Regions from separate parts of the Homo sapiens genome. Here region 2 is reported to be linked to region 1. Evidence: microRNA targets listed by miRTarBase, many of them from high-throughput screens and not tested one by one. Region 1 holds a microRNA gene; the other region holds the end of a gene's coding sequence.
What was found. The annotated mature microRNA hsa-miR-136-3p reads CAUCAUCGUCUCAAAUGAGUCU and lies in region 1 at 1,983-2,004, shown strand. An mRNA with a match to its seed (bases 2 to 7 or 8) in the 3' UTR can be bound and repressed. Matches are read on the target gene's strand: a 7mer-m8 pairs with bases 2 to 8, a 7mer-A1 pairs with bases 2 to 7 and ends in A, and an 8mer does both.

Region 1 (5,174 bases):
TCCACAATGGTCCCACGCAGCTCCAGTTTTGTGAACCACTCGGCTCCGTGTAACTGGTCAAACAGTTCCGGAATCATCTGTATGTAGTCCTGTCTGTTGGTCAGCATGTCCTGCAGGTCCCAGTATTCCTCCTGTAGCCTGGCTCTTTCTTGCATCCTGGCACCCACAGGTTCCCAAGGCGCGGTGGAGGGACACTCGTAAAAGGTCTCGCTGTGATCACTGTCTCCAGCCTGCTGAAGCTCAGAGGGCTCTGATTCAGAAAGATCATCGGATCCGTCTGAGCTTGGCTGGTCGGAAGTCTCATCATCTGCTTCCTTCGGGTTAAACACGTCGGCCAGGTCTGAGTATGGGTGTGGCAGTCCGGGTAGCAGGCTCATGCCGTGCCTCTCTAGGGCAATGCATGGCGGGGGCGGGCGGAAGCAGTTCTTCAGGCAGTAGGGAGAGTGGAAGGTGCAGCGGCCTTTGATCCAGTCGACTTCGGGGGCGTGGACTCGGAGCCAGCGGATGCCTAGGACCACAGAGAAGTTCGGTGAAGGTACGATGTCAAATTCGATGGACTCCTGGTGGTTCTGGTGGATACACACCAGGGGCTCCGTGTAGAGCCAGACAGGCTCGTTGCCAATCAGCGAGCCGTCCACGGATTGGACCGGCTGTGGGTACGGCTTCTCGTAGAGCTCGACGTAGTGCTCTTGGGCGAACTTCTCATCCATGAAGTTGCCGTCAGCTCCCGAATCCACCAGGGCCTGGACCGCGACGCTGTGGTAGGGGTTCACTCTCACCATGAGCAGCAGGAAGAGGTGGGCGCGATTGATGTCCGGATGGACTTCGCTGGGCAACCAGCTGCTGACCATCCACCTCTCTGGAGCAGGTGAGTCGATCCAGGTCAGGTTCCGGGGGCGGGCCTCGGGGGGCAGCCTGAGCATAGCTCTTCTCTCTGCCAGCTTCTCTTCTATTTGCAGGATGAGCACAATCAGACTGTCTAGGGAATCCGGCTGAGGGACCCGGAATAGATAGTGCCTGATCTCCTCGTTGAGCCCCTGGCACAAGTGGGCCTGCAGGACTTCATCTGGCCAGCCCAAGATGGGTACCAGGCTCTGGAACTCATCGATGTACTCAGTGGCAGAGCGGCCGCCCTGCCTGATGGTGAACATGGCCTCTTCTGCCACACGCAGTGCCTGGCGGTACTCAAACACTTCGGACATGGCCTCCAGGAAGGCTGGGAAGTCTCCGATCAGGGGGCTGTTTTCCTGCAGTAGAGCTTTGGCCCATTCTAATGCCAAGCCGGACAGGTGATTGATGACATAGCCAACTCTCAGACGGTCGTTATAGAACATTCTTGGGTAGCTCTGTAAGGTCAGTTGGCAGAGTACGATGAACTCGTGGAATTCTCTGCGATCGCCAGAGAAGTGCTTTGGGGCGGGCAGTTGGCCTGCATTGATCCCTTTGATCAAGATCTCTTCTGCTACTCTCTGTTGCTCTTTGAGGTCTTGCATTCGGAAGTACAGCGAGATGATGGACCTCACCATGGCCATAAGTTCTGCGGTTGAGTGCTCGGTCTGGTTTTGCTCTTGAGGAGTCTCCTCCCTTCCCGATTCCTTCAGGTCAGTGTGAGCCTCTTGTTCTTCTCGGGCTCCCGATGGGTTGACTGATGCTTCTTTCATCCTATCAGATGCTCCACTGAGTGGATCCCCCCTTGCCTGGTGTGAACCGTTGCATGACTCCTCCAGGTCTTGGAGTAGGTCATTGGGTGGATCCTCTATTTCCTTACGTGGGCCACTGGATGGCTCCTCCATGTCTTGGAGTAGATCAGTGGGCAGCTCTTCCATTTCCTGGAGTGGGCCACTGGGGGGCTCCTTCTTTTCCTGGGCTGGGCCGCTGGCTGGCCCTGCCTCTCCCCGCACTCCACTGCCCGACGTCGCCTCGGTGGTGTTGGATGAGCCCTCGGAGGACTCCATTTGTTTTGATGATGGATTCTTATGCTCCATCATCGTCTCAAATGAGTCTTCAGAGGGTTCTATCATTTCGTCGGATGGAAAGGAGTGTATTCTGAAGATTGGTAAGGTTGTGATGGCGTCCAGTCAGTAGCTGGGACCGTGGAGATCAGAACCTGGTGGTGGAAGGGGAGTGTGGGGAGTAAAGGCAGTAGTTTAGGATCTTGTGAAGTGGCAGTATCAGGGTCTCAAGGACAAATCAGATGCCCAACTAATCAGAGCAGAGAGAAATGGGGGAAAGCCTTCTTGTATCGAGCCAGCCTCTTTGGCTGGTCACTTGGGGTGCCCCCAGGGAGGGAAGATCTGTCAACCCCTGACCTGCCTCCCAGGCTTATTCAGTCTGCCTGTCCTGTCCTTTTCCTCCATAGATGTGAGAAATTCACAGCCCATAAATTCTGTGGCTGGGAGCAGCCACCGTGGCAGGCGGGTACCTGGCAGGGTGCACAGGCTGCTCCATTCCCCCCTGGCACATGCACCTGGTCAATCCTCTTTTCCTGCTTTGGTCACCTGAGAATCACAGAGGTCACATCTCAGCACCATCCAAAGCCACCCCTGGCAGGCTCAGGGCTCTGGAGCAAGCCCAGCCACCTTGGTTGTGGAGCGGGAATCTCTAGCAAAGATGCCTACTGTTTCACCAGTGCAGTGGAAGAGGAGAAAATGGGCACTTGGCCACTGTCCCGTCAGTTGGGTCAGCAGCCCAAAATAGTTCTTATTTCCTTCCCCATGTTCAAAATAGAAATTTCAGGGGGTGTGTACAGGTCTGGGTTTTTTTTTTTTTTTTCCATAAATTTTATAACATACCTACTATGTGCTGGATAACTGCATATTTGTTACTTGATTCTAACTCAGACTTTTGGCCAATTTCTCTTTCTCGATTTGGTCTCCTTCCAATGCTATGTTCTCCCGACCTCTGAGCTGTTGAGGAGATCTTCAAATAATCTCCTTCTCTTCCTACAATCTCCACTCTCCCAGGACTGCCCTCTTTGTGAGGCTTCTGGAACTTCACACATCTGGCCTCAATTTCACCAGTGCAAGCATATCTGCACGCCTCTCCAATCTTATCCTCCCAGGTCCCCTTCTTAACGCCAGTGGGTCTGGTCTCCTCTTTCTAGCAAATATCTTTTTCTCTCTGTTGCTGGTTGAGCCCTCCCAACAGACATGTATCTGGCAGAGTTGGGACATTGAGTGTGGGGGTTGGGGGGAACATGTGACATCTTTGGAATCTGACGGTCCCAGAGTGGATTTTTGGAAATCTAGTGTTGGGTGGTTTTAGTGGGCTGAGACAGAATTGAAAGGGAATGTCTTGGTTGGGGTTATTTGCACATTTCTTCTCTGCTGGGGCAGAGCAAATTAAGCTTTGATTATCTGATAGATTAACTGTAAAGCTACTGCTCTTTATAAATTTAACACCTTTTGTTACTTCTGAGTTTTCTTCTAAGCCACTGGACCCATCCGTAAAAAAAAAAAAAAAAACTGCGTTCCCCCTTACGTGAAACTCATTGGCTAAAATCCAAGCTTTCCAACAGGATACAAAATTCAGATCTGCTGTTTCTCAAAATTAAGTACACCCTTGTTAGCATGACACTTAAATTTGATCATGCAGTCTCTCTGATTAAAGCCTTCCACTGTTTATTTACTGTCTGCAATATTAAATCCAAACCTTCTAGCGTAAACATATCTGACATGTAAACTCACCAAAACTATTCTCTGGTTAAAATGTAAGGGCCTTAATATAATATAAAATTCTTATTTTGTCATTCCTCAAGGTAGAGATCACATTTTTTTAAAGCACAGTATACAAATCAGCATGGTATAGGAATTATAAGAATCATCATCATCATCATCATGATGTACATAGCACATTGCAGAAATTAACTCATTTCCTCTCCATAAAAGTCCTCTGAGATATGCATTATTACTGTAAAATTCCAAACCTCTAATATAAAATTCTAATTGAAATACAAATAAATAATTCTAATTGAAATACAAAAACTAAGTAATTCATCTGCAGACTTATCTATCAGGAATAAAAATCTCAGCATGTCTCTCACTTAAAACTCTTTATTGGTGAAAATTTAAATTTCTTAGCAAGACGATTTAAAAACTAGATTATGCCCCCTCTTAATATAAAGTCTACACTGCTTAACATATTTACAAATTCGACCATGTGAATGATTAAATCCTTCAATGTTCCTGCCTTCAGCTCAAAATCTAATATCCTCGGCATGTTAGAAAAATCTTAATACTTCTTAACATCAAAGTTTAAACTGTTAGCAAGATGAATAAAGGTCATCTCATAATTTCTCTATTTAACACATATAAAAATTCATTTTTATTGCCTGTAAAGTTTCAACCACTTAGCATAAAATGAAAATTTTCACCGTGTAATTTACTTGCCAACTGATTAATACGAACCCCCAAATCTCATCAGGTCACTCCTAAAACCCTTTATTGGCTTAATTCCAAACCTCTTCGCATGATATAAAATTCTGACCATGTCATTCCTCAAAATAAAAAGGTCACTCTCCCTTGCAAGATACACGAATTTGCTCTTATAACTTCTGCTTAAAGCTTTATTCTATCTCTTAATTACCTATGAGATAAGGTCTAATTATTTTTAGCATAGAACAATACATTTTACTATAAAATTTCTCTGACTACTCTACCCAAGACAAAATTTCTGCCATGTTACTGCCTTAAAAATCTCTTAATGAGCCAGGCACGGTGACTCACAGCTGTAATCCCAGCACTTTGGGAGGCCAAGGCAGGTGGAACACTTGAGGTCAAGGGTTCTAGGTCAGCCTGGCCAACATGGTGAAATCCTGTTTCTACTAAAAATACAAAAATTAGCCGGGAGTAGTGGCTCATGCCCGTAATCCTAGCTACTTCTCCTAGGCTGAGGCGGGAGAATCGCTTGAACCTTGGAGGTTGCAGTGAGCCGAGATTGCGCCGCTGCACTCCAGCTTGGGCAACAGAGGGAGATTCCCTCTCAAAAAAAAAACAAGACTCTTAATGGCTGAAGTCCAAATTCCTTAGCATGGCATAAAAATGTAATTCTGTCATCCCTCAAAATAGTGTCCAAACTTCTTAGCATGCTATGTAAATTTAATCATATAACTTCTTTTTATAAAAACATGCTTTGTCTATAAATGACCCGTCTCCTCAGCATGGAGCCCAGCCTGG
Region 2 (5,000 bases), not on the chromosome of region 1:
ACATCTTTTTTTTAAGAGCACATAAACTCCTGTTTTATTTTTATTGTGGCATGAATGATAACATAAAACCAAAAACATGAAAATATACAACTTATATTACACTATGTGTTATGAACAAAATATAAATCTATAACTCTATGTTATATTTACATAATTACTTATTATTTTATTAAATTTCAAGTGAGATGGTAGGTTGCACATACTTTGTTTTAAGCTCCAGGCATTTGATTGTCTCTTTTCTATTTTTTTTCCATTTTTACTTGTAAAATCCAAAATATTAGAAGGACTAAGAGCTTTAGAGCCAGTGGAGCTATATAAATACTGTTTTAGTGAACCAGTGACGGAAACACTGGGGAGGACAGGAATCAATCAATCAGTAGGAAACTCAACACATCGTCTTCAACCTGGGAAGTTGATAGTTATAGGATACTTTAAAATTAAATACTGTAAAAGCCTGGCTAAACCAACAGCTATGCCCTACAAGACAAAGGGATACCTGAACCACTTTAAGTGGCCTTCATAGTTTTCCTTGCAGACCCCGTAAGTTTTATTTTATTATTAATTTGATAGACAAATACCTTATAAACCTGTTTGTAAATATACAGTTGTTTATTACAATTCAACAATTTACCCATTAGAATGAGTGAAAGTGTAATTATTTTTTATGTTTTAAATGTGATATAAGAGGTTTCTTCTGGGAACAGTCACAGCTTCTGGATTAAGAAAATATCTGAAGTTGGACCAAAAAATGGTTAATTTTCTTTAAGTGAATTAAGGTAAAATTCTACTCCGGAAATCAAATCTATAAAATAGCTTCACCACAGAAAACTTTTTTATATTTGTTCTTTATAAGAGGATTTGGTTCTAACGATGATTATGTTCTTTGGGAGGGATTTTATACATGGTTAACTCTTAACTGCAGATGCCAAATGAACTTCACAAATGGACTTCACTAATTTAGGTATAAATGTGCTGAAGAATAGTTTTATATTTTATCCAATTGTGGTAAGTTAATCACTAACTTATTATTAGTAACTATAAATGAGTAACTTTATTTTCTCCGGTAATGTTCTCTTAGATTCATATGAAAACAGGACTATTTTTAGAGAAACGGACTACAACAACTATAAAAACCAGAATTCTGGCAAGATTATTTCTCAGTGTTGGGGCAAGTGTGTGTGTGTGTGTGTGTGCGCGCGCGCGCGCGCGCATGTGAGAGAGAGAGAGAAAGGGAAAGAGATAAAGTGTGAACAGATAGGTAAGAAAGCAGACAGGAAGGAGACTGTTTATGTTTTAGTTTGATCTTTTGATCTTACTCTCATTTTCTTTATCTTTTTTGGTCATTATGGGGCACAGAAAAAGAATACAGGGTTTTAGGATCCTTTACCAAAATTATAAATCAACCAATGCCAAAAAGGCAATGTAGTAACACAGTAAGTTGCTATTCATAGCACCTTTTATCAAGTGACTTCAAAGCACTTTCAACATTAATATAACTATTTTTGCTTTTGTTTTCTTTTGGGGAAAACTAGGGCAAAGAAAATTTGATGTCCAGTGAATTAACCGTCAGAACAAGAGAACAGAATGCAGCGGTATGAACTTGCTTTTTGTTTCGGTTCATGCACAGTTTAGTCTCGGACATAAACCTAACTAAAATCAAATTTTGAATTTCAGCAGTTAAAAGTCACCATTAACAATTTTGTTTTCCCCTTCAAATAAAACAAAATATAACAAAAAAAAGACCAAACACCAAAGTGTTGTCAATTCATCGGTAAGTGTGTTAGAATTGATTTCAGCCATGAATGCCTTCAATGGCATCTACCTGGAGCTAAAACAAAGTATTCTTGTAGCCCAAACTCATGAAATGAAAACAAAGCATCTTTCATAACATGGTGTAAAGTAAGTATCCAGCAAACGTGAGAGGTGAACCCACATAAATCGGAAGGAATTTGTTAACAAAGACAGAGAACAAATTTTTTAAAAATCTGTTTTCACATTGTACATAAAAATGATATAAAAACAAGTGTCTATTTTTTCCTTATCCAGAGTGCTTAAAAACAAAACAAACAAAAACAAAAAAAAATTGGCTCTAGATGACTGTGGCAATTAAATAACTAAAATGAGTGATGAGAGCATAAGTTAATTAAGATTGAACACGACCCTCCTATTAATTCACTCCTTTGTTTTAAACATCAGAACTGATATTGTTGGGGCCAAAATTCTTAAAAAAGAGAAAACTTACGGAAAGAGAAGTAAAATTGTGGGTAAATGTGTGTGTGTGTGTGTATATGTGTGTATATATATGTATATATATATATACATATACATACATATATGAGTTGGAGATGGAAATTTGTTTTAAATATCTAACAGCTTATTGGCTGCACTTCCAAATCAGAGCAGAATAAAATAGAAAGGGAGAAATAAAATAAATTATACATAACTTACTAATCTGGGAACAGCTGACCATTATTATTATTATTACTATTATTATTATTATTTTATCATCATCATCATTACAACACTAGCAAAAAGAGGCAGTTCAAATGTAAATAAAGTCATCAAAAACAAACAAACAGAAAAACAAACAAAATGAAATCTCTGACATGCAGGATATGATCAGCTCCTCCAAGCAAAACCCCAGAGCAAGTCTTCTGAGAGAGAGAAAAATAAAAGGGATTCTTTTTTTATTTATATGTAAAAATCCAACTTTAGGGTGGTGTTTCGGGGGGTGAGATAGGAAAATGATGACTGGAGTGAAAACTATAGCACATCAAGCTACTAGTTGCAGTATTTACTATCTATCTGATACTTCAATACAAATAATGGCAATTGACTTGAAATGATTTTGCATTTATTTGTACAGGCCCTACAACTGCCTTGGCATTTGGCTGGCAAAATCTACATAAGCAGTCCCATCACATTCAGTTGTTGCTCTTTGCAAATACTCTGCTTGAACCAAAGTTGGACTTCAGTGGATTAATCTGACAGCAAGGGAAGAGCAGTGGCAAGGATCCCTGGGTGCAGCCAGGCTCCATTTTATTGGGCTGCAATGACTTTTAATTAAATCCTACTTTTTATGGCATGAACTACATATGGCCCACACTTCTGAAATGCTAAAGGCCTCCACCTCACTTCATGGAGGGGTGAAAAATACCTTATAAAATCATCAGTTTCATTTCCTGATCGGGAAAGGATGGAATGTTGAAGAAATAAGCTAATTCTATTTGTCTGAAAAAATGGCCAAATATATTCAATGAAAACAATGATTGTTTTGCTCAAAATATCAACAGGAAAAACAAAAATCACTAAGTAGCAAACGTTAATGGAACCAACTGACCAGGGAGAAAGGACATCTGGGAGCAGTTTGCTAGTAGCTTCCATGTTATACATGCACACCTCTATTACACAGGGCCACCTGATCCATCCAATAATAATCAGACATTTAAAAATATAATTTCTGAGCCCTATACTTGGTTAAGTTGTCATTTGAAGTGCAAAGTCAAGGTCAAGATTATTTCTAGACCAGTCACTTGGGAGGATGTGGGATTTCATCCCCAGATGTGGGTTTAACTCACAATGGTCCAACGTTATTCCTATTATTAGTACCATAATCACATACATACATACACACAAAAATCCAAGATCAGAAAATATTTTTCTCTAAATTTCTTATGTCTCTCTCTCTCTCTCTCTTTTCACCTGAGAACAGCACCTACAGTTTCCATTAAAAAAAAAAGTCAAATCTCACCAGCTGCTGGTATTTCAGGTTTTTCAAGGGATTGTCTAAGATTTAACACTGTCCTAACTTAAGAAGGAAAAGGAAAAAGTAAAGAGAAAAAATGAACTTGGTCAACACTTCAGTACAAATTTGGCACTTGCTCAAAGATGTAGTGTGGTGTGCAATAGATAAAGTCCTCTAAAGAAAATAATTGCTTATTTTGTGGTGGATAGCAAGGAAGTTAAAAACAGGCTCTTTTTCCCTCTTTCCCCTCATGCACAGACTTCCATCTTTAAAGTAGAGAGATGGAGAAGGTGGAGAGAAGTAAAGAGAAATTCATTTTTCTTTTTTTTCTGTCAGGTGCATTACAAAGAAAAAAAATGAAAGGAAAGAAAAAGAAAAGGAAAAAACCCAGAAACCCCAAAAAACAAAACAAAACTTTTTTCTTTTTAAAAATTGTAGCACAAAACAACAAAACACATTCACAAGCCACTTGTTGGCACTGTGTACCTGAGTGAGAATTTCTAGAACATTGTAGAACAAACAGCCATAAAGTTTATTTAAAAAAAAAAAAAAGTTGACGGGTAAGACTTCAGTGCTTGGATGTAGCAGCTGAATTACTGGCATTATTTTACCCATAGCTTATTTCAATCTCTTGTTGTTGATATTGTTGTTTGCTTGTTGTATTTGTTTTTTCTTTCCAAGCCTTTTGAGGCTGAGGTCTATTAGTCAGCTGATGTCCCAACTATTTAAGACTAACAGTTAAAGTAACAGTCAGTGTATGAGAAAGTTAATGTGCTTGGCCACTGGTAAGGATGAACCAGTTAGGGCTTCTTTAAGTCCTAAGGTCACAACAATCTTTTGACCCTTATCAGTTGGCTTGTCCTGCAATATGGTTTTCACTGTCACTCCCATAATCTACATCTGGATCATCCTCTTCCTCGTCGTACTCATCATAAATTTCTCCATTGATGTCCTCGGCCTGTATCTCTTCTTTGATATGTGGCTCCTCTCCTTTCACACCGTAAGTGCTCTGGATAACAGGCATCCCAGGCTCTGGGCTGCTAGACACGCTTGAGTGCTCCGAGGGCAGGTGAGGGGAGGGCATCCCAGCCATGGCGATGGCTCCAGGGTACACAACACCAGCAGTGGCAATGGGGATCTGTGCTTGTTGCCTGTCAAGAAAGGAATTTCCAAAAAGACATCGTGGGTAAGTGAATAGTTAGATGTGGACTTTACTACATAATTAATTTGCTCAGCAATGTCCAATTCTAAGGTA

Region 2: miRTarBase lists SOX5 as a target of hsa-miR-136-3p. Seed matches in the 3' UTR shown: 7mer-A1 at 2,503-2,509.

The regions. Positions count from the first base shown.
Region 1 is chr14:100,882,768-100,887,941 of GRCh38, forward strand. It overlaps MIR136 (microRNA 136), which reads left to right and starts at 1,935; the gene lies at 1,935-2,016. RTL1 (retrotransposon Gag like 1) reads right to left here. Exons shown (of 4, transcript NM_001134888.3): 4 at 1-2,107. The coding sequence starts at 2,021. MIR127 (microRNA 127) reads left to right here and starts at 212; the gene lies at 212-308. It overlaps MIR432 (microRNA 432), which reads left to right and starts at 1,716; the gene lies at 1,716-1,809. RefSeq lists a silencer at 2,925-3,219.
Region 2 is chr12:23,529,627-23,534,626 of GRCh38, forward strand. It overlaps SOX5 (SRY-box transcription factor 5), which reads right to left. Exons shown (of 15, transcript NM_006940.6): 15 at 1-4,896. The coding sequence ends at 4,593. Among named protein-coding and RNA genes, the nearest start is that of SOX5, 420 kb to the right of the region's middle.